4 separate regions of the Homo sapiens genome follow, and all the other regions are linked to region 3. Evidence: fine-mapped expression QTL. A gene starts in region 3. Each other region holds a variant in brackets. All regions are shown on one strand. Distances are between the middles of the regions.

The links. PIP is the estimated chance that this variant, and not a neighbour inherited with it, causes the effect.
Region 1: its variant is the best candidate, but not a certain one, in a credible set for the expression of CASP1 in pancreas (GTEx, PIP 0.55).
Region 2: its variant is the best candidate, but not a certain one, in a credible set for the expression of CASP1 in whole blood (TOPMed, PIP 0.82).
Region 4: its variant is the best candidate, but not a certain one, in a credible set for the expression of CASP1 in whole blood (TOPMed, PIP 0.89).

What each region holds. Positions count from the first base shown.
Region 1 is chr11:105,526,712-105,532,362 of GRCh38, reverse strand. It overlaps a transcript of LOC105369468 not described here. Among named protein-coding and RNA genes, the nearest start is that of GRIA4, 81 kb to the left of the region's middle. The variant A/C (reference allele first, on the strand shown) is at 2,673.
Region 2 is chr11:105,147,240-105,152,890 of GRCh38, reverse strand. No RefSeq gene overlaps it. Among named protein-coding and RNA genes, the nearest start is that of CARD18, 10 kb to the right of the region's middle. The variant A/G (reference allele first, on the strand shown) is at 2,990.
Region 3 is chr11:105,032,213-105,037,803 of GRCh38, reverse strand. CASP1 (caspase 1) reads left to right here and starts at 2,660. Exons shown (of 9, transcript NM_001257118.3): 1 at 2,660-2,697; 2 at 3,330-3,596; 3 at 4,678-4,740. The coding sequence starts at 2,691. It overlaps LOC124902742 (a long non-coding RNA gene), which reads right to left. Exons shown (of 3, transcript XR_007062869.1): 3 at 2,123-2,163. RefSeq lists an enhancer at 2,532-2,581.
Region 4 is chr11:105,179,048-105,184,698 of GRCh38, reverse strand. The region is part of intron 4 of LOC105369468 (a long non-coding RNA gene); the gene reads left to right. LOC105369469 (a long non-coding RNA gene) reads right to left here. Exons shown (of 5, transcript XR_007062872.1): 3 at 1,178-1,329; 4 at 776-926. Among named protein-coding and RNA genes, the nearest start is that of CARD18, 42 kb to the right of the region's middle. The variant T/C (reference allele first, on the strand shown) is at 2,963.

The DNA.
Region 1 (5,651 bases), 490 kb before region 3:
CACATTAGATTAATTTAAGAATTAAATGAAATGAGATAAATCATGCAAAGGCCTGATAAAATGTCTGACACACAGTGAACAGGCAACAAATAATTTTGATGATAGTAATGATGGTGATGATGATTATGGCTATGTGTGTGATGGTGATGTTGAGGTGTGCCATTTGAATAAACTAGCCCTGCATTTTTGTGTCTTTTAGGGAGCTATGGAAAGGGGAAATGGATCTAATATGTATTGAATTCTATTACTTTCCTGATTTTATTTCACTTAATTCATACAACCCATTTCCATTAGTAAAGAAGTTAAGGCTTAAACAGGGAAAAACCATGTGTCTAGTTCACACAGTTTCAAAGTATATGCACATTAGTTGCCAGACATTCTGTTTATAGGACTCTAAGATAAATTATCTTGGGTTATTCCTTTGATTATGATAACAGCTGCTTTGGGCAACTAAGGATGATAAATTTTTATACTTTATAATAAAAATTGTGAAAATATTGCCTCAGCCTAAGCTCTCACAAGGACCTGATCCAAACCCAAGAACATTTTAAACAAAAAAGGGTAATTCCTTTGCTTCTAGTTCTTGGAACTCTGCGGTGTAATGATAGGAACTTGAGGTTTGGAACAAGATAAATGAAGTGTTCCTGTTCTACTTTCCTTTTTAGAAAACACCTAAGTAAAACCATTCTTGAAAGGACACATGAACAAATTGAACCAGTCAGAGGGGAAAGATCAGGATGATGAAGTGACTCAGAAATCAGGTAATATTAAAAACAGTTGGAAGAAACAAGGAGAAAGTAGACTCAAAGAACAAAATAGTGGTTTACTTTAAATATTTGATATTCTGTTTTATGGAACTATGTTTCCCTATATGTCTAAAATAGGCAGAATTGGGACCATTGGTATAAAGCACACTGTATTTTTATAATATTTGTACAAATTTATGTTCTGCACAAGCTTCCTTTTGTATATGTACTAATTTGTGATGTATTTGTACAGTGTTTGGCCTCAATACAAGAAAATATTATCTAATAAAGAAAATTGTAATGAAAAGAGATAGTTTGTGAAAAACTGAGTTCCTAGTCTATGGAATTGATTTCAAAGGGAATATATTTTAATTCATGATATTGAAGATGCCTTCTAAACATGATAATCTATAAATATGGGCTAGTTTCTGGAGAATGTATGATATTCCCAGCAGCATCAACCTCATTTGCCTCTTCTACCATCTTATCCTGGATAGATTTAGTAATTATTTTGTGCACCTACTGGGAAAATACCAGTCTCTGCGTCTGTTATATGGCCACATGATACTGTAGAAAGATCATGAACTTGGAGTTAGACAGACTTGAGTTTCCAATCTTGAATTTTTCCACTTACTATTCTGAGGACATTATACAGTTTCCCCAGGCCTCAGCACTTTTTGTCTCCAAAATAGGAATACCATTTATTTGGTAGCAGGATTTAGTAAAGTGGTATGTGAAATGCCTACCACATGGCAGTAATCAACAAATAAAAACATCAGTACCATCTGATGAACAATATTGACATGGATGATTGCCAAGGAAAAATATTTACTTAATTTTTCAGTAAAGTTTTCATTAAAGCATAGCATATACACAAACATGCACTCAAAATATAATAGGTTGACTGGATACATTTTCTTAAAGTAAATAGTCTTTTTTCTTGAAACAAATACATTTTATCCTGCCTGCAGAGTATAATACCCAATTTAAGAGAGAAAATAAACACCCATTATTGAGCATGCAATATCAAAGCAGCTGAGTTTGATTGGAGTACACTATGTTTTTACATTATTTCAGTACGATACAAATACAAAATGGGCAAATTATATGTGAATATATTTATGAATTTTGGTCAGAGTAAACTTGTAACTAGCATCCAAATAGAAAATTACGCCAGAATCTCTCTTATACTTCCTCTTAGAATCTAACCACAAATTTATTCATGGTATGGCGGAGAGCAGATTTTTTTATATATATTCATTTTTTTGCATAGAAAGCAGTGCGTGTCCACCTAATTATGCATCAGAATTATCTGGAAGTTTTGCTAAACAGAGAAATCTAGAGGACCCCCCTCCAGACTCTCCAAACCAGAATCTCCAAACCAGTAGATCTGGAGTGGGCCCATCAATTTGCAATTCTAACAGGTTCTCAGGTAGTACTGATGCTGCTGGCCCAGGGACCACACTTTGAAGATCATTAGTCTGTAGCATTTCATTTCATGACTGCGCAACAGTTATTTATCCATTATTCTCATGATGGAAATTTAAGGTATTATGGATAATACAGACCTTATCATTTTTATACATGTGCTTGGATGGGTAGATACTTGAATAGATAAAGAAATAAAAATTACAGGGTTATGGTTTATGCATATATTTGTACATAATTCATATTGTGCAAAAGTTCAAGAGTGGTAATACTAACTTGTATTTTCACCTATAAAAGAGAGGCCTTGGTTATCTTCCAGAGTTTTTATAGTTTTAGGTTTTACATTTAAGTCTTTAATCCATCTTGAATATGTGGTATAAGGAAGGGTTCCAGTTTCAATCTTCTGCATATGGCTTGCCAGTTATCCCAGTACCATTTATTGAATAGGGAGTCCTTTCCTCATTGCTTGTTTTGCCAGCTTTGTCAAAGATCATACGG[A/C]TATTTGCCAATGTCCATGATGAACACAGATGCAAAAATCCTCAACAAAATACTAGCAAATTGAATTCAGCAGCACATCAAAAAGCTAATTCATCATGATCAAGTAGGCTTTATCTCAGGGAGGCTAGGTTGCTTCAACATATTAAAACCAATAAATGTGATTCATCACATAAGGGGAACTAAAAACAAAACCACATGATTATTTCAATGGATGCAGAAAAATCTTTTGATAAAGTTAAACACGTCTTCATATTAAAAACCCTCAACGCACTAGGCATTGAAGGAACACACTTTAAAATAGTAAGAGCCATCTATGAGGAACCCACAGCCAACATCATACTGAATGAGCAAAAGCATTAACCTTGAAAACTGGAATAATACAGGAATGCCCTCTCTCATCATTCTTGATCAACATAGTACTGGAAGTCCTAGCTAGAGTGATCAGGCAAGAGAAAGAAATAAAAGGCAGTCAAATAGGAAGACAGAAAGTCAAACTATCTATGTTTGTAGACCGTATGATTCTATATGTAGAAAACACCATATTCTCTGCTCAAAAGTTCCTTGATCTGATAAACAACTTCAGCAAAGTTACAGGATACAAAATCAATGAACAAAAATCCATAGCATTCCTATACACCAACAACATCCAAGCTGAGAGCCAAATCAGGAATGTGATCCCATTCATAATTGCCACAAAAATAATAAAATACCTAGAAATACAGATAATCAAGGAAGTGAAAGATTTCTACAATAAGAATTAAAAACAACACTGTTCAGAGAAACCAGAGATGATGCAAACAAATGGAAAAACATTCCATGCTCGTGGAGAGGAAGATTCAATATCATTAAAATGGCCATACTGCCCAAAGCAGTTTACAGAGTCAATGCTATTCCTATCAAACTACAATGACATTCTCTTTATAATTTGAAAAAAAACTATTCTAAAGTTTATATGAAACAAAAATAAGATAAAAGCTCAAATAACCAATGCAATCCTAAGCAAAAAGAACAAAGCTATAGGCATCACCTGGCTTCAGACTACACTACAAGACTACAGTAACCAAAACAGTATGGTACTAGTACAGAAACAGACACATAGACCAGTGGAGCAGAATAGAGAGCCCAGAAATAATGCCACATACCTTCAACCATCTGATCTTCGACAAAGTTTACAAAAACAAGCAATGGGGAAAGAACTCCCTGTTCAATAAATAGTGCTGGGATAACTGGCTAGTCATTTGCAGAAGATTGAAACTTGGCCCCTTCCTTACACAGTATACAAAAATCAACACAAGGTGGATTAAAGACTGAAATGTAAAATCTAAAACTATAAAAACCCTGAAGATAACCTAGGAAATACCATTTTGGACATATGACTGGTCAAAGATTTTATGATGAAGATGTCAAAAGCAATTACAACGAAAAATTGACAAATGGGTCCTAATTAAACTAAAGAGCTTCTGTTCAGCAAAATATCGACCAAGTAAACAGACAACCTACGTAATGGGAGAAAATACTTACAAACTATGTATCCTACAGAGGTCTAATGTTCAGCACCTTTAAGCAACTTAAACAAATTTATAAGCAAAAAACAACCAATCCCCTTACAAAGTGGGTAAAGGACATGAACAGACACTGTTCAAAAAAAGACATTTAGGTGGCTAACAATCATAGGAAAAAAAGGTCAACATCACTAATCATTAGAGAAATAAATGCAAATAAAATCCATGAGATACCATCTCACAGCAGTCGGAATGGCTATTATTAAAAAGTAAAAAAATAACAGATGCTGGTGAGGCTGCAGAGAAAAGAAAACATAACACTACTGGTGGGAATATAAATTAGTTCAGCCATTGTGGAAAGCAGTTTGGAGATTTCTGAAAGAACTTAAGATACAATTACCATTCAATGTAGCAATCTCATTACTGGATATATATCCAGTGGAATATAAGTCATTCTACCATAAAGACACTTGCACACATATGTTCATTGCAGCACTGTTCACAATAGTGAAGACATGGAATCTACCTAACTGCCCATCAGTGCTAGACTGCATAAAGAAACATATGCACCATTGAATACTACACAGCCATAAAAAATAATGAGATCACATCCTTTGCAGCAACATGGAGAGAATTGGAGGCCATTATCCTAAGTGAACTAACACAGGAACAGAAAACCAAATACTGCATGTTCTCACTTATAAGTGGAAGCTAATTATCTAGTACATGTGGACAAAAAGAAGAGAATATAGACACCAGGGCCCACAAGAGGGGGAAATTGGGAGGAAGGTGAGGATCCAAAAACTACCTATTGGGTAATATGCTTATTAATACCTATTGGGTAATATGCTTATTACTACCTGTTGGGTACTATGTTTATTGCCGGGGTTACAAAATAATCTGTACACCACATCCCCACAACATGCAATTTACCCATATAACAAATCTGCACATGTGCCCTGAAGCTCAAGATAAAAGTAAAAAAAAAAAAAGGGCTAATGTTTAACAGCAACAACAACAAAAAAAAGGCTAGATGCTTTACATATGTAATAACTTTTTCATTTTTTAAAGAAATGGCACTAAATATGTAATGGTGTCTCATTGTGATTTTAACTTGCATTTTTCTGATAACTAAATATTGAACATATCTTCACATGCTTCATTTGAATATTCTCTTTTGAAGTACATTTTCAAGACATTTATTCAATTTTTTCCTGATTTACATTTTTTCCTGCTAGATTGCCCCATATAGACAGTCCCTATTTCCAGAAAATAGACCAAAAACTCCTATAAATTATATTAATGATTATATGTATAATTATATATTATATTAATATTTATATATAATTATATATTATATTAATAACTTATGGAGGTTTAGTCTATTTTATATTATATACAATTATATAGATTATATTAATATATGGGAGTTTTTGGTCTATTTTCTGGATATAGGGACTGTCTGTATGGGGTATCT
Region 2 (5,651 bases), 120 kb before region 3:
ACTATGTTTTACGTATCTCTATTTGAACATCTGCTTGGGTGCTCTCCGTTCTCTCTCAAAGAGTGATGGATATCATGAAACCAGATTTAGAATTTGAGTCATGCTACCCTCAGCACCACGTGATTTATCAGTGTCCACTCCCAATCCAGGATGCCACACTGCCCCTTGTTGTCATATCTCAGTCTTTGGTCTGTGACAGTTTTTCTGTATCTCCTTGATTTTTATGACCTTGACATTTTAGAAGAGGATTTTTGTAGAATGTCTCTCATCAAAGTTTGTCTGATGCTTCCTCATATTTAGATTGTGAATTTTGAGGAAAGAGAACACAAAGGAGAAGTGTGCTGAGAAAGGACTAATTACATATACTATTTGTGTTTTTCTAAAAGGGGCATTGAACTTTTCTGTCATTTATTTATTTATTCAATCGTTCCTTTACAAAGCCATGCATCACTTAATGACAGGGATATGTTTGAGAAATGTGTCATTAGGCAATTTCATTATTGTGCAAGTATTATGGAGTGCATAGCCTACTACACACCTACATTGTACAGTATCGCCTATTGCTCCTAGGCCATAAACCTGTATAGCATGTTACTGTATTGAATGCTGCAGTTAACTATAACACAATGGTAAGTGTTTGTGTATCTAAACATATAAAACGTACAGTAAAACATGGTATAAAAGATAAAAAATGGTACATCTTTACAGGGTACTTACGATAAATGAACTTTTCAGGACGGGAAGTTGCTCTGTGTGAGTCAGTGAGAGAATGAGTAATGAGTGAATGTGAAGTCCTAGGACATTACCGTAAACTACTACAAACTTTATAAACATACACTTAGACAATACCAAATTTATTAAAAAATACTTTTCTGTCTTTGTAATATATTTATCTTGGCTTACTGTATCGAGACATGCTGGTCTCGAATTCCTGGCTTCAGGTGATCCACCTGACTTGGCCTCCCAGAGTGTTGGGATTACAGGTGTGAGCCACCGCGCCTGGCCTGAAAGTTACTTCTAAAATTGTGATTAGATTCAGGCTAATTTTATTTTGCAAGACTACTTCTTAGGTGATGCTGATTACTTCATACTGTAGAATACTAGAAGGTACATAACACCTGAAATGTCTCAGCTTTAATGATACAAGAAATAATCTGTGGGTTCAGCTTGATCCTTTCTTTATAAAGGTCCTGGTCAACCTTTACTAATGATTTTACCACTCACTGATTGCCATTGTCATGATCATATCTGTCATTACAACCTGTGAGATTATAGTTTTTTTCTAATTTTTTATCCATTTATTAATTAACTAGACTTCTTAATACAAGAATTTTTCCCTTATGTACTAGCTCCTAATTTTGTTAGCCTGAAACACAATTCACATGAGAAGATCAAGATAAAGACTTAATCATTTCACTTTAATTATCAAATTCAGAAATATAATTCACATGAAAAGATCGAGATAAAGACTTAATTATTTCACTTTAATTATCAATTAATTGGTGCCCTGGCAACTTTTACTGGTTCTCAAGAGTTTTGTTTTGTTTCTCATACTCTCTAAGAAACTTAGTTCATACTCACTGCTTTTAATATACCCTATGTGTTTTAATAATCATTTAAAGACATTCTTTCTGAAGTTAAAATTTCCCCATCTTGCTCAGTGGAAGTCCTTCACTTTGGCTCTTTTGCCTCTATAGCATGACCCATGAGAGCTTCCTTGCTTTCTGGTTCAAGAAAACATTCTACCTTTATGTCATAAATTTTCTGACCCCTGCCTTGGATCAGCTACTTCTCCAAGAAGCCCTTACCTTCTTTAGTGGTAAATAGTTTTTAGAAATTATATTGGAAACTAGAGGTGATTATTGCTACTAGACTGTTATAACTCTAGGCCTTTTTCACAAAGATAGGAAATATATATTTTGTTAAAACTGGAGGTATTATGAATTTGCAATTGTATTTTCGCATCGTATTTAAGATTCCAACACTATTACTTACTATATTTGAATTTATGTAGGCAGTTCTTTTCTTCCATGCTGAAAATAATGATGACAATAATCATAACATAATTACATACTTTTAAACTTATAATCCACTCTAAAATGGGCTCAAAGTCACCTTATTCTATCACATATTGCAATTTCCTTATGTCTTCATTTTTCAGATTTGAAAATTGTATATTCTGTAGTTTGCCAAAAATTATTTAAAATTGACATCCAAAAATAAAAGAAAATGTTCTAGATATGATTTAGGTAGTCCCAGAATTAGTGAAATGGTGTTTTCCCTTTAATTGTTTTATAGAATACATAGCATCACCAACTCAGTGAGAACTTTCTTATGGAAATTCTGCTGCCCCAAGTGCCTTGTTTCTCAACATTACCTCCATGGTAGGCAGAATAATGGACTCTCAGACCTGTCCATGTCCTAATTACCTGCACCTGTGAATACATTACCTTACATGGCAAAAGAAACTGCAGATATGATGAAATCTCTTGAGATAGAGAGAATACCCTGCATCATCCAGATGCACTGAATTTAATCCCAACAGTCTTTATAAGGGAAGGATGGCAGCAAAAGAGTAAAGAAGAAGATGTGAAAACAGAAGCATAGATCAGGATGACACAGAGCCATGAGCTAAAAAATTTGGGTAGCCTCTAAAAACCAGGAAATGTAAGAGAAAGAATTGTCCCCTAGAGCCTCCAGAAGTAACACAGCCCTGCCAACACCTTCATATGAGCCCAGTGAAACCCATTTCAGACTCTGACTTCCAAAACTATAAGCTAATAAATTTGTGTTGTGTCAAGTCACTACATTTGTGATAATGTGTTATAAAAGCAGTAGTAAATTAACCCACCTGTCCACATATGTGTTCTTCATGGTATGCATTATGACTTGCAAGTATTTTATTTATTGGTCTGTGGACTTATTAAGTCCCTCTTCTCTACTGGAATGTAAGCTTTATGAAGTCAAGACTCTATGTTCTTATTGACTT[A/G]TACTATTCTCACTGAGTATAATATGTAATTAGTAGTGTCAAAATAAATATTTTTGAGTGAATTAAGATGTATACAATCTAAAATTGTTCTGGTCCACATTAAACTTATGAAAGAATGAAATAACCTGAGGCTTTTGTTCTCTGAAATAAGCTATTGCCAGACCTGTTCATCTAGTAGAGGAGCAATGGATTACATGCATTACCTCCCAGCCATGCAGACTTTAATTTTGTAACTTCAATTGTGGTTTAATTACTAACTCACATGGCCACATTCTCTATTAGTCAGCAAAAGTCCTTATGGACAAGGTTAATACTGTATTTTTGTTTTACTAATAAATCCTTATATTCTAATTCAGTTACCTGATATTTATTAGATACTCAATAAATAAGTATTTAATGGATGAAAATAAATGAAGAAATGTGTTATGATTAACTCAGTAATTCATATTCTTTGACATTTATCTCCATTTAATTTCACATTTTAAACTGATTGTCCTATATTATCAAATATTTTTCTAAATTAATTTTCATTTATACATTTGCTGTATTTGATATATATTCTTCCTTTCACTCTAAATCATTTATATTTTACAATATATACTGATGACATTTGTTTAATGTGATGTGACCATTGTTTTAGGTGATGTGGGTATTGAAGCAAAGAAGATGGACAAGTTGTTATTTCTAGAAGCCCATTTTGTAGAACTAGATAGATAACAAATAAATAAATGAAAGAAAGTATCAGTTAGTGATAAGTGCCTTGTAAAGAAACCAATTTATCTAGATAATTTTGTTTTTATGGTTTGCATTCCGATTTCTGTGCTTTCAATTTTTATGCCATTCTATAGGCATGAAATGTCTTTCCGTCTCTTGTATTTGCACATGAAATAGCTTGGGTTTTGCAATTGGAAGAGTGAACTTAAGTTTGATATCCACTGGAGATTAACAATGTGACCTCATGCAGGAGTTTTAATGTGGGTGAGGCCAGTTTGCCATCTGTAAAATGGGAATATAGCACTAACATCTTCTTCACTGTGGTGCTGAGTGAACAATGCCCATTGTACATAAAGCACTCACCACAATGCCTGGCACACAGTAGGCTCTCCTTAAATATAGTCCCCTTTGTTCTTCATTTGTGTGTTCAAAACCCTGTCATTCTTTAAATCCCTGAGCACTTTTAAATCCATGTTTTTCTAAAGTCCATTTATAGCACTCTTAGCTTGTCTTGCCCTTTAGAGGATTTTCGACTTCTCTTTTGTTGTCATATATTTTCCCCTGTGTTTATGCTTTTGTCCTTCAGTCTACACTTAGCGTTTTGAAAGCAGACCTCCCTCTCCCGTCAATATTACCTTTCTTGTCTTCTCAGAAGACTTGGCGCAATGCTCACAAGAAAGATGGCTTGTGATACTAGAGAGAGCTGGCCTAGGGATGAGAAAAACTGGACTCTCATTCTGATTCATCTCATCTCTTGGCAAGTATGCAGGCTCATTATTCATGAGGTGAAGAAGCTATTACTTGCCTTTGCTATCTAGCTCACTTGTGAGGGTGCAGTATAAAAAATACAAAAGGAAACATGTGGCACAGAACCTGTTTTCAGGGCTGTATAAGATAATAACACTAAGCTAACGCTAACGATCAATAGACTGTATCAAGCTCTAGTAAGAGTTTAATTTGCCGGACACCTGTCATCTTTTCTACAACCAGGTTCTGAGAGACGGTCTGGAATAATGATGAAGAACCAGATTCTGCAGCTGGGCCACCTGGATTTGAATTCTGGCTCTGCCACTTCCTTGCTTTGTGACATTGGGAAGGTGTTCAAGCTCTGTGCTTCATTTTTCTTATCTGTAAAATGAGATTAATAATATTATCCACATCATACAAGTATCATATGTATTAAATGGGTAAAAAATTGAAATATATATATACATAGCACTATATATAAAAGACCAATTCCCCAAATCATCTTATTTAAGGTAATATAATTTTTAAAAGGAGATAGTATAGTAGAGAGTAGAGTATTTCAAGTGGTGTTCAAGGCCTGGGCAGAGCAGACAGAATTTCTAAAATGCTCAAGCAAAACCTTATTCTTATTTAATATATTATTTATTTAATTATTTTGTCTAGACATGTAGACATATTTAATATTTAGCCCCAATGTGCCTTAGCAAATGTAGTCTCTGTCCATGACTGCTATGGGAAATGGACCAGTCAATGTTAACTGAGGTAAAGCATCCTCAGTGTTACCTACTGGCTGGTCTGTTATCAGAAAAGGGCATCTGTAGGAAGGTATAGAAGAATCTTCAGCACAAATGTGGGTTCAGTTGCTACTGTATCACTTTGCAGCTGTTCTGCCTTGAGTAAATTTTGAAGATCAAATAAAATAATATTTTCTAGGAAACATGACATAGTATCAAATATAAAATAATAGTTTTGCCTTCTGAATTACAGAACTATGATTCTAGAGCCCTATTCCTTCACCCGTGATGCTACAACCTTTGCATGTGTCTTTTATAATAATCTAAGCCCATCATGTTACTCTTTTTATATGGACAAAGAAATTTGAGCCTTTATTTTTCCTACTTGATTTAATTTGTTATTTACAATCTTCGACTTTTTTTTAAAAAAAGGATAAAGCATTTATTATTTTCTTTATTTAGGATTT
Region 3 (5,591 bases):
TGCCCCAGTGAGGACTCTGTGTGGGAGCTCACACCCCACATTTCCCTTCTGCATTGCCCTAGTAGAAGTTCTTCATGAGGGTCCCACCCCTGCAGCAAACTTCTGCCTGGACATACAAGCATTTCCATACATCCTCTGAAATCTAGACAGAGGTTCCCAAACCTCAATTCTTGACTTCTGTGCCCCTACAGGCTCCACACCACATGGAAGCTGCCAAGGCTTGGGGCTTGCACCCTTTGAAGTCACAGCCCAAGCTATTTCTTGGCCCCTTTTAGCCATGGCTTCAGTGGCCCGGGAAGAAGGGCACTAAGCCTTTAGGCTGCATACAGCAGAAGGGCCCTCGGCTTACCTCATGAAAACATTTTTTTCCCTCTTAGGTCTCCAGTCCTGTGATAGGAGGGGCTGCCTGGAAGGTCTCTGACATACTCTGGAGACATATTCCCCATTGTCTTGGAGATTAATGTCTTAGAGATTAACATTTGGCTCCTCGTTACTTCTGCAAATTTCTACAGTTGGCTTGAATTTCTCCTTAGAAAGTGGGTTTTGCTTTCCCAGCACATCATCTGGCTGCGAATGTTTCAAACTTTTATGCTCTGCTTCCCTTTTAAACATAAGTTCCAATTCCAAACCATATCTTTGCAAATACATAAAAATGAATGCTTTTAACAGCACCCAAATCACTTCTGGAATGCTTTGCTGCTTAGAAATTTCTTCTGCCAGATGCCCTAAATCATCTCTCTCAAGTTCAAAGTTCCACAGATCTCTAGGGCAGGGGCAAGATGCCACCACTCTCTTCACTAAAACGCAGCAACAGTCACTTTTATTCCACTTCCCAACAAGTTCCTATCTTCATTCGAGATGAGCAGCATTTAGTCAAAGCCATTCAACAAGTCTCTAGAAAGTTCCAGATTCTATTTTCCTATCTTTCTCTAAGCCCTAAGAACTGTTCCAACCTCTGCATTTTACCCAGTTCCAACATCGCTTCCACATTTTTGGAGATCTTTACAGCAGCACTCCATTACTCAGTATAAATTTACTGCATTAGTCATTTCTCACACTGCTAATAAAGACATACTCAAGGCTGGGTAATTATATAGAACAAAAAAGATATTTAATAGACTCACAGTTCCACATGGCTGGGGAGGCCTCAGAATCATAGCAAAAGGCAAAAGAGGAGCAAGGACACGTCTTACATGGGTGCAGGCAAGAGGGTATGAGCAGAGGAATTCCCTTTTATAAAACCATCGGATCTCATGAGACATTCATTATCAAGAGAACAGCATGGAAAAAAAACAGCACCCATGATTCAATTACATCCCACCAGATACCTCCCATAACACATGAGGATTATTACAATTCAAGGTGAGATTTGAGTAGGGAAACAGAGACAGACCATATCACCAGCCTTCATGTTTGTCTTTCCCTCTTGAATGTGAGACCAAAGGGGAAAGGACCATGATATGTTTTGACTGAACCTCTGGCACCTAGAGCAATGTCGTCCGTATATGTTTGCTAAATGAATGACTAGATGCACTGCTTGAGGATTCTAACAAAAGATAAACTTAGCTAAATAATCTGCAAATAATCATCCTTGATTATTTTTCTAACCTTAAACATTTGTATTAATTATAATAATATCACTCATTATTTGCTTACCATTTGCCAGGCTATGTTCCATGCATTTTCCACATTTTCTCTCACTTAATGCTCAAAACTGTGTAGGTACATACTATTAATAAAATTATTTCACATACAGAGGAACCAATGCATAGGGAAGTTCATTATCTTGCCAAGGAAGGGAAGTTTAAAATGCTAAGTTCGACATTCTCATTCCAGAGCCTATGCTCTGGGCCTCTACAATGCAATTTCCCTCAAAAATAAACCCTCCAGGATGGGTGGGTGGCTCATGCCTGTAATCCTAGCAATTTGGGAGACCAAGGTGGGCACATTGCTTGAGCCTGGGAGCTGAAGACAAGCCTAGGAAACACAAGGAGACCCTGTCTTTACAAGAGATACAAATATTAGCTGGCCATGGTGGCATGTGCCAGTAATTGCAGCTACTCGGGAGGCTGAGTTGGAAGAATCATCTGAGCCTGGGAAGTGGAGGCTGCAGTGAGCCAAGGTCAAATAACTGCATTCCGGCCTGCACGACAGAATGATACCCTGTATCAGAAAAAAAAAAAAACAGAAAGAAAAAAGCAATGTGAAAAGAAGGACATTAAATAAGAAAAGCTTTAATTCTGGTGAAAAATGTTTCTATTTCTTAAAGCAAAAATGTTTCACAGGGACATACATTACCCACAACTTTCCCAAGAGCTATGAGGTGGGGTCAGGGGAACAGTGGTTCACATACTCCAAAGGTTGTGTTACTTTTCTCCGTCAAGCTTTCTAATGATTGAGAAACTCTTCACTGTGTGAATTTAATTGTACACATACTTTTTCAATCCTGTCTTACTCTCCAAGCCCCATTCCCCTCCTACCCTGATCTATCCAAGGGCTGGTGAAGAAAATTTCCCATGGATACACTACCTGATGCAGGCTACAGTTCTGATTCTTTAATGGGAAGAAAAATAAAGACATGCATATGCATGCACAGTGAGTATTTCCCAATACATGTACAGGCCCTGCCAAAAAGGAAGGCGAAGCATACTTTCAGTTTCAGTCACACAAGAAGGGAGGAGAGAAAAGCCATGGCCGGTGAGTCTTTTACTGTTCCAAGAACAGGTCCCTGGGAAGAAAGAGTTTTGGAAGGGGCTGGCTCTTCTGGAAGCCATAATTAGCATCTGTGGAAGTTTACTTGAGTAGAAGCAAGGAAAAGGGGGGAGAGGGAGGAGAGAAGGAACTAGAAGATTCTTGCAGACTTTAGAAAGGAAAGGCAAGCCCAGAAAGGAACTGAGGCTTTAGGGGAAGCCTGATGTCATTTTGCAATCTTAATTAAACTCTTACTTACATGTTGAAAGTCTGACAGAGGGTACAGAATTGGCACAGGAGGAGTACTAGCAGCAGTGGTTCCTAAATGAAATGGGCTATTTCTGCTTCATTACTTTATTAACCAGAGTTAAATAAACATGCGACATAAGAGGATGATCTCTGCTTTCCAGGGACTGATGTGGAAATGGTAAACTCAGTCTTCAGGTCACTCCATGCACATGTATGGAGACTATTGAGGGAAACAAGTAGGACAGCAATACAGTAAGAAGAGGGATTACCCAACTGTGAGGAGGGGGACATTTCACTGATGAAATCTAAATGAGGTCACTTTCTGTTGATTACATGAGAGGAATATGAGGCTGTTTTCATGATGTGAGAAATCCTTGTGCTCTAAACAGACAAGGTCCTGAAGGAGAAGAGAAAGCTGTTTATCCGTTCCATGGGTGAAGGTACAATAAATGGCTTACTGGATGAATTATTACAGACAAGGGTGCTGAACAAGGAAGAGATGGAGAAAGTAAAACGTGAAAATGCTACAGTTATGGATAAGACCCGAGCTTTGATTGACTCCGTTATTCCGAAAGGGGCACAGGCATGCCAAATTTGCATCACATACATTTGTGAAGAAGACAGTTACCTGGCAGGGACGCTGGGACTCTCAGCAGGTAAGGGTCAGTGACTTACACTCAAGTTCACCTAGGGCCTGTCTTCGTGCCTAACATTTGATTTCTTTACTAGTCATGTTAATTGGAAGAAAACTTTCTTATTTCTGGCTTCAGGGCCATATTTCTGTAGCAGGGTCCCTATTGCATGTCCCTTGACTCTCCTTTGATTCTTTTCCTTAATCCTCAGTGGCACTCTTCTGATTAAAGCTCATTTCCTGTTCTGAGTATGTGGTAGCTCCTTTACTGAAGCTCTTGAGAACCATCTGAAAAGCTTCATGCTGTGTTTTCCAGTGTTCCTGGCAAGGCAAAATATTTACCTGTGGATTTATTTTTGCTGAGTGCAAGGGGTCTGTAGGCACTTATGTAGTTGTAAAGTCACATGAAGCTTTAAGGTTTATAATCAAATACTTTTTATAACTTTTCTCCAAAATTTTACCCTCCCAAAAGAATAAAATATATTTCAATGATGGCGATACACTCAGAGAACACATTGAACGTATAGAAAAGTGAAGATTTCTAATGGGCTCATTCCTCCAGTTGCCTCCTTGTATTTTCTTTGAGTAAGATCACCTGGTTGCCTGTTACCAGGCTGTGGGTCATGCTGTGAGGCCTGGAAATCCTCCACTTGCAACCCTCCTCAGGCCCAATACAGGGCTCAGGAACTGAGCTGGCCAAATCTCATGACCACTTGGACCTACCACGTGGTGAGGATGAGAGTTCTGGTGGATTCCCAGTCATTGATGTCTGTGGCACTTCCTAAAGCCACTTCAGAGGGAGATGTTCTTTGAAAGCAAAAGCCTTCTGTTCTAAGGGTTAGGGAAAGCTTATGCCTGTCTAAGCAGACATTGCAGATGTTTCTGTTTTCATCTATGTGTAATAAACACGTATTTTTCTACCAATGCCTCTTTCATTTTCTACCTCCCACCACTCTCTAAATTAAAGAACATCTTTAACATTATTTAATGTCAGTCAGTCAGTCAGTGTTATGGGAGAAATTTTTAGTGGGGAGTGTTTTACAGATTGGGGTAAAGTTTTCCAGAGATGATAAGTGACTACTTCAATACCCTTTATCTTTTCATAGATCAAACATCTGGAAATTACCTTAATATGCAAGACTCTCAAGGAGTACTTTCTTCCTTTCCAGGTAATGCTGTTTTTAAAGGAAGAGCATTCTTTGACCCACATCTTCCTTGACATTAATTTTGTAGGATCAAACGTGGGTAAATGGGCTATGGAGAATTCTCATAGATTGGTCATATAATTTTCTTTTTGTAATCTATTCTGCTTTTGTAGAAACTGTTTCCACAGCTTCATTATCCACATTTATATTAAAAATTCTGAATCTGTGTCTCAAATCCTGATTACCCAAATAAGTACCAAACTTCATTATTTAAGCCTACTGAAATATTCACTCCCATCTCCCAGAGACACCTTATTCTAAACTTTCCCAGAGCTGAAAATGCTATACTTCCACACCCTGCTTCTCTTCCGGTTTTGTGTAACTTGGTTATTGGTGCCACCGTCACCAGTTGTTCAAACCAGGAACTTGAAACTCATATGGGACCCTTCCTTCTCATGCACCTCTAACATTCAACCCATGGCCAAGTTTTATGCAGGCTTTTCTCAAATTTGGAACCATCTCTCTATTTCTACTTCTATTATTTTATTAAAGAACCCCTATTCCCATAGTGCACTCTTAAACTTATATCTGAAAGCAATGTAGAGGCTAGGAATGCAAATTATTTATCAAGTTCAGATATTACTCTACTGAATTTATTAAGGTTGGGTATCATGAATATTTTCTTAAATGTTTCACAGCATGGGATATTCAATATATAAAGAAATACTGTATTCTCTACTATGAAAAAATAGCTCAAAAATAACCTAACTACTTCTAGTTTTTTTCTATTGTTTTCACACTTCTTTATGAAGAAATCCAACATTTTATCCAACAAATGATTATTCTATAATTTTTTCCAATATATCTATTCTAAT
Region 4 (5,651 bases), 150 kb before region 3:
GCACATAGAATTAGAAGAAAAATAAGAACTCCAAGTTTATTAACTTAAGAAAATGTAATCTGTATATATATTTTGTCAAGCTCATACTAAACTTTGCAATCATTTCTACTTTCTTGAAAGCAGCTGATGGACCAAAGAGTATCTCAAGCATTATTTATCACCATCTCATTTTTTGTAGCATTAATGGTGTTCTGTTTCCTTTCCAAGCAGAAATATATGAAGTGACTTGCTTTACTGTATGGAGAACCCATGCATCATTCATAAATGGTCTTTTACATTTAACGTAGCACAATAGGTTTTCAACAATTTTCCATTTTGAATTGGTATATATCAAGTGGGTTCAAAGATGATGCTGCAATGTCCACATTTTAAATTATAGAAGCCCTCTCAACCTCTAGTCTCTTTCATTGTGTGGTATTTTATTTAATTCTGGTGTGGTGGTGGTGGTGGTAGTGTGTGTGTGTGTGTGTGTGTGTGTTAGGGAAAGGAACCTTCAAAAATAGGAACTGCTTCAGATGGATATGGGCAGAAAAAAATCATTAGTATATAGCAGTTTCCATATTCTCTTGTTTTTTTTTTACTTCGTAACTGTCACTAAAGAAGGAATATACATACTGTTAGTTTCCTACTGCTCTCTTAACAAATAGCAATAAACTTGATAGCTTAAAACAACAGAAATTTATTATATTACAGTTCTCAAGGCCAGAAGTCCAAAATCAAGGTGTCAGCAAAGTCATGCTCCCTTTGAAGGCTGTAGGGTAGAATCCTTCCTTACCTCTTCCACATTCTGATGGCTTCAGCCTTTTCAACTTGCGCCTGTGTAACTTCAATCATTGTACCCTTCTTCACATGGGATTCTTCTCTTCTGCTTCATATCTTCTCCTCCTCTGAATTATTCCATCTCAAAATCTTTAGCTTAATTATATCTGCAAAGAAGATTTTTTCTAAACAAGGTCACATTTACATTTTTCAGGGATTAGAATATGAACATACCTTTTGAGGAGGGCCATCATTCAATCCGCTGCTAATCAGGCCAAAAGCACAAGCATATAGCTAGAGGAAAATCTTATCTACTTCTCTGCATCTGGCAACCAAGTTCCTGATTCGTTTCCTTACATGGATAATTCCAATTAGATAAGAAAATCTCAATTAAAAAATATAGTCGACTGCTGCTTACCTTCTTTTTTTCTGAGGCACACAGTGTCTTGATCCTTCTACTTTCTAAATACATCTCTTTGTATCTTTCATGGCTCTCTTTTTGCTTCATTCTTTCCATTTATTTTTCTCATTTTTTCTATCTTTGGTGTATAGACCTTGACTTTACTGTAGCTAGAAGGAAAAGGAAAAATGTTTCGGTTGCATGTATATTATCCACTGCTTCAAATCCAAATCACACTGTAACCAGTTTTTTTAAGCAGGGATAGGGGTTGAGAATGTGCTGTTATGTATGTGCACAGTGAGGCCAAGTAAAAAAATTGAGACTACTAGAGAAATAAATTGACAGACAATAAAATAAGTAAAATGATTTACAACTTATTTGAAAAATATGTGATGAGCTAAAAGGACAGATTTGTGTCAGAGAGAAATTATGTGAATCCTAGAACTGGAGAATAGGGAGAAATGATTGCAAGGAGAATAAAATCAGGATAAATCACTTGACAATACCCTTCCAAAATTATCTGAAGAATTGAGAACTTCACTAATTAATAAGTTTCTACCTTAACTGCTAAATTTATATGTAAATATTTTTCCATTTTCACAAGCATTTATTGAGTGCCTACTGTGCACTAGATACTTTTTAGTGTATTGATTCTGGTATAAATTCAGAAATGCTATTGTGTTGGATCCTAGGTATGCGTGTGGTAACCAAAGTCTGCAAACTCTGTTCCCTGGTTTACACAATAGAGAAAATATAGCATATGATAGAAAAACAAATGTAAACAAGTAAAACAAATAGGCAAACAAGGAATTTTCAACTGAGTTTTGTAAAAGTCAAATTATACTCAATGGACACTATATTTGAATGGTTTAAGATGTTTGGAAATTAGTTAAATGTCAGAACAGTTTTTGTGCACAGGGTGATTTTAATAAAGATTAGAAAACTGTAATAATGCTGCTGAGGATCAATAAATAGACCTTAATATTAGAAAATAATATGGTTGTATTCTCATACTGAAGTATGGAAGAAGAATGTTATGATTAGTATAGACATTTTTTCTTGCCATGGATGTTATGTAAAAACAATTTTTAGAATTTATTGAAGCTATAACAATAGAAAGTATTTCTAAAAAGTTCTTATTCACATTCTAAATTTTCATTAGAGTCATAGGAAGCTTCAGCATAAACCTTAAGATTTTACATTTCAGCTCAAGTAATATGCACATAAAATTTGACATTTTCCAAAGAAGAGGAAAATTTCAGATCAAACGTTGATACATACTTTTTTTCATCATTGCTTTTCTCCATTCCTTAAATTCTTATTCTGGTTTAACGTCATGACAATCTCTCATTTCACTGACATTTCATAAAAAGAACACAAGGATTTTCTAATAAAGGCTTTAGAGATCTCTAATTCTTCTTTGGAAATTGGGCACTTACTTTCTGTGCATTTAAATCACTTCTAAGATAATTATCTCTCCTAGTCTCTACAAACATAAATATAACTGTTCTGCTTTCTAAGTCATGGTTTTCTTTAAGTATACTTGCTATATCTTCACTTTCTGTGCATGAATATCAGATTAGGTCTCATCAAAAGCGATCTTTGTTTGAAAAGTAATTTCAAAGCCAACTAGCATCATAACAACACATTTTAGCTTGCACCTTTCCGTCCTGCTCAGAAAACACAAGGTGATGTTTGTCACTTATATTTAGAGTCAAGTGATCTCCAAGAAGCATACTGGATAAGTTCACATAATGCCAGGTTCCTGACAAGAGTTTCTTGTTGGTTGGCTTCAGTAGCTCT[T/C]GCTCAAGAATTGCAGAAGTACATGTTTCTGTAACACATACTTCCTCAATAACCCTATTAGGTAATCTTAATATCATTTCCCTGTACTCTGGGAGGCTGTGTTTTTGCTAAAAAATCCCTTTGCTTTTTAACTTGAAAAAATAATCAGAATTTATTGACTCTGTGAATATCTTTGAATAGACCACCAAATGATAATAAATCAATAAACAGAAGCACAATCTGTATTTTTGGAAACATGTTTATATCTTAAAATAGGCTAAAAATATTGTAATATTTTAAAAATTTATATATGGCTCATCAGAAGCTCATTATTGCTCATTGTCTGCTAGAGAATATACTTCTTTAGTTCTTTGTAGGATTCAGAGCTATTTCTGGATCTCAGTTATAAGGCACCGGCTGAATCATTCACATTGTCTCTGAAACTTGGGTTGGCTCAAGGCCAAGTTGTTCAGAAGACTTTCTGCTAATCGTATTTTAGTCTTGTCTTTGTAAAAGGCTATGAATTATCTTAATAGAATATCTGTTAAGCAATAGTTTAGTGAGACCTTAGCTTTCACTTTAATAACCCATTGAAAGGAAATATAAGTGTAAAAAAGCAGTCTTTATGAGTGGTTTAGATCATAGACTCTGGACTCAGACAATCCTGATTTCTTTTTTTTTTTTTTTTTTTTTTTTTTGAGACGGAGTCTCGCTCTGTCGCCCAGGCTGGAGTGCAGTGGCGGGATCTCGGCTCACTGCAAGCTCCGCCTCCCGGGTTCACGCCATTCTCCTGCTTCAGCCTCCGGAGTAGCTGGGACTACAGGCGCCCGCCACTACGCCCGGCTCATTTTTTGTATTTTTAGTAGAGACGGGGTTTCACCGTTTTAGCCGGGATGGTCTCGATCTCCTGACCTCGTGATCCGCCCGCCTCGGCCTCCCAAAGTGCTGGGATTACAGGCGTGAGCCACCGCGCCCGGCCGACAATCCTGATTTCTAATTCTCACTCTAGCAATTGGTGGTTATTCAACTTTAATAAACCTGCACAACCTTGCTCACAGATTAATTTTTCCATTTCTACAATGAAGACATGATATCTCATACTCTCACAGTATTATTTTGGCCATGAAACAAGCTCATACTAAAATGCTTAACACATCGTACACATAAATATTAACTAATATTAAAATCTAGTTTATTCAAGAAGAATATTTTGAGAGGAGTTTGCTTTAGTCCTTGACATGACTTTCTGTACACTTCCAGGCAATCAGTAATAATAGATAGATAAATGAAGAAACTAAAGCACAATTATTCAAAAGAGATAAACACAGAACTCCTCTTTGATTAGAAGGATCTTGCCCGCACCTAGAGTAGAAACTTACTTCTTCAGAATAGTTTGTCACAACTATTATCTTGTATTTTTATCATAGATCTTATTTATTTGACTTTTAAAACAAGCATACTTTTAAAATATGTTAGAAGGGGAACAAAACTAGCAGAGCTGGGTGATATGAAAGTGACCTTAAGAGCTAATTGTTTAAAATTTTGCAAGAAAATACATATTATTTTGCAAATATTCCCTGGAATGTGCACTTGACCTATCTTTTCTTCAAACGAAGTTATTCTGGACAGACTGCTAGCATATGATAAATGTGTACTATGAGTAAGTTACTATTGTAGGACTAGCTGAACAAAGACAGAGGACTTTTTTAAAAAAGCAATCAGCTGTTTCTGGGATGTTTCACGGTCCCAAACTGGAAACATCAATTAATATGTTAAAGAGCTAATCTTTATTTCTACTTCTACATAAGTACAGGAGCAATATATCTCTGGAAGTATATAAACCATTTCTCAATAATACATAATTTTATTTTGTTCATATATTTGTGTCCTTCACACTTTGTGAAATTTACCAGCGAATGCATTATCATTCATTTTAATAAGTTTATTCCGCAATTTCAGGGGAACACAGGGCAGCTCTAGTTCTCAATACATAAAAGGAAAGCAAGTGGCCCGCTGGCTGAAAGGTAGCTATGTAAATATTAGCAAGCAGAGTTTAAATGCTTGGCATTTATCCAATTGACCAGAGGATTCTATATCTACACCATTAGAATAATCTTTAGAAGTCATAAGAGGAATCCCCCAAAGTGTCATATCCCTTCCTTTAAAAATACCATGCATGTCACTGAGTGTACCATATGGTATTTATATCACTTTTTAGTTTTATTAGTTTAATCTGAACAGAAAAATATTCTTATGTATATGGGTGCAGCAAATGGTTGAAATGATAGAACTGTGTCTAAGGCAAAGTTATTTTAAAAAAAACATACTTGTAAGCCTGTGCAACCAGATAGAACATTTTATGGCTAAAAGCTTAAAAATATATTTCAGATAGAGAGATCAGTAGAGAGACAAAATATTGATCAGATATCCAGATTATACTAGAAAATTTTATTTATATGCAGAGCTAATTTCCATTCCGTTACAATTAATATTGTTTTAGACATGTATGAAAATAATATATTAATAAATATTTATTAACGTATGCTGGGGAATGAGATAAAAAAATGAATCTGTTCTATAACAATATGCATCTCCAGTTCTAGAAAAGGTTAAGACAAAATTTAAGGCATTGAAAAGAATTAGCTCTTTATCTTCTTTTAATTTTTAGACTGGGTCCAGAATCAAAAATATATTTATGGAACTATCAGGT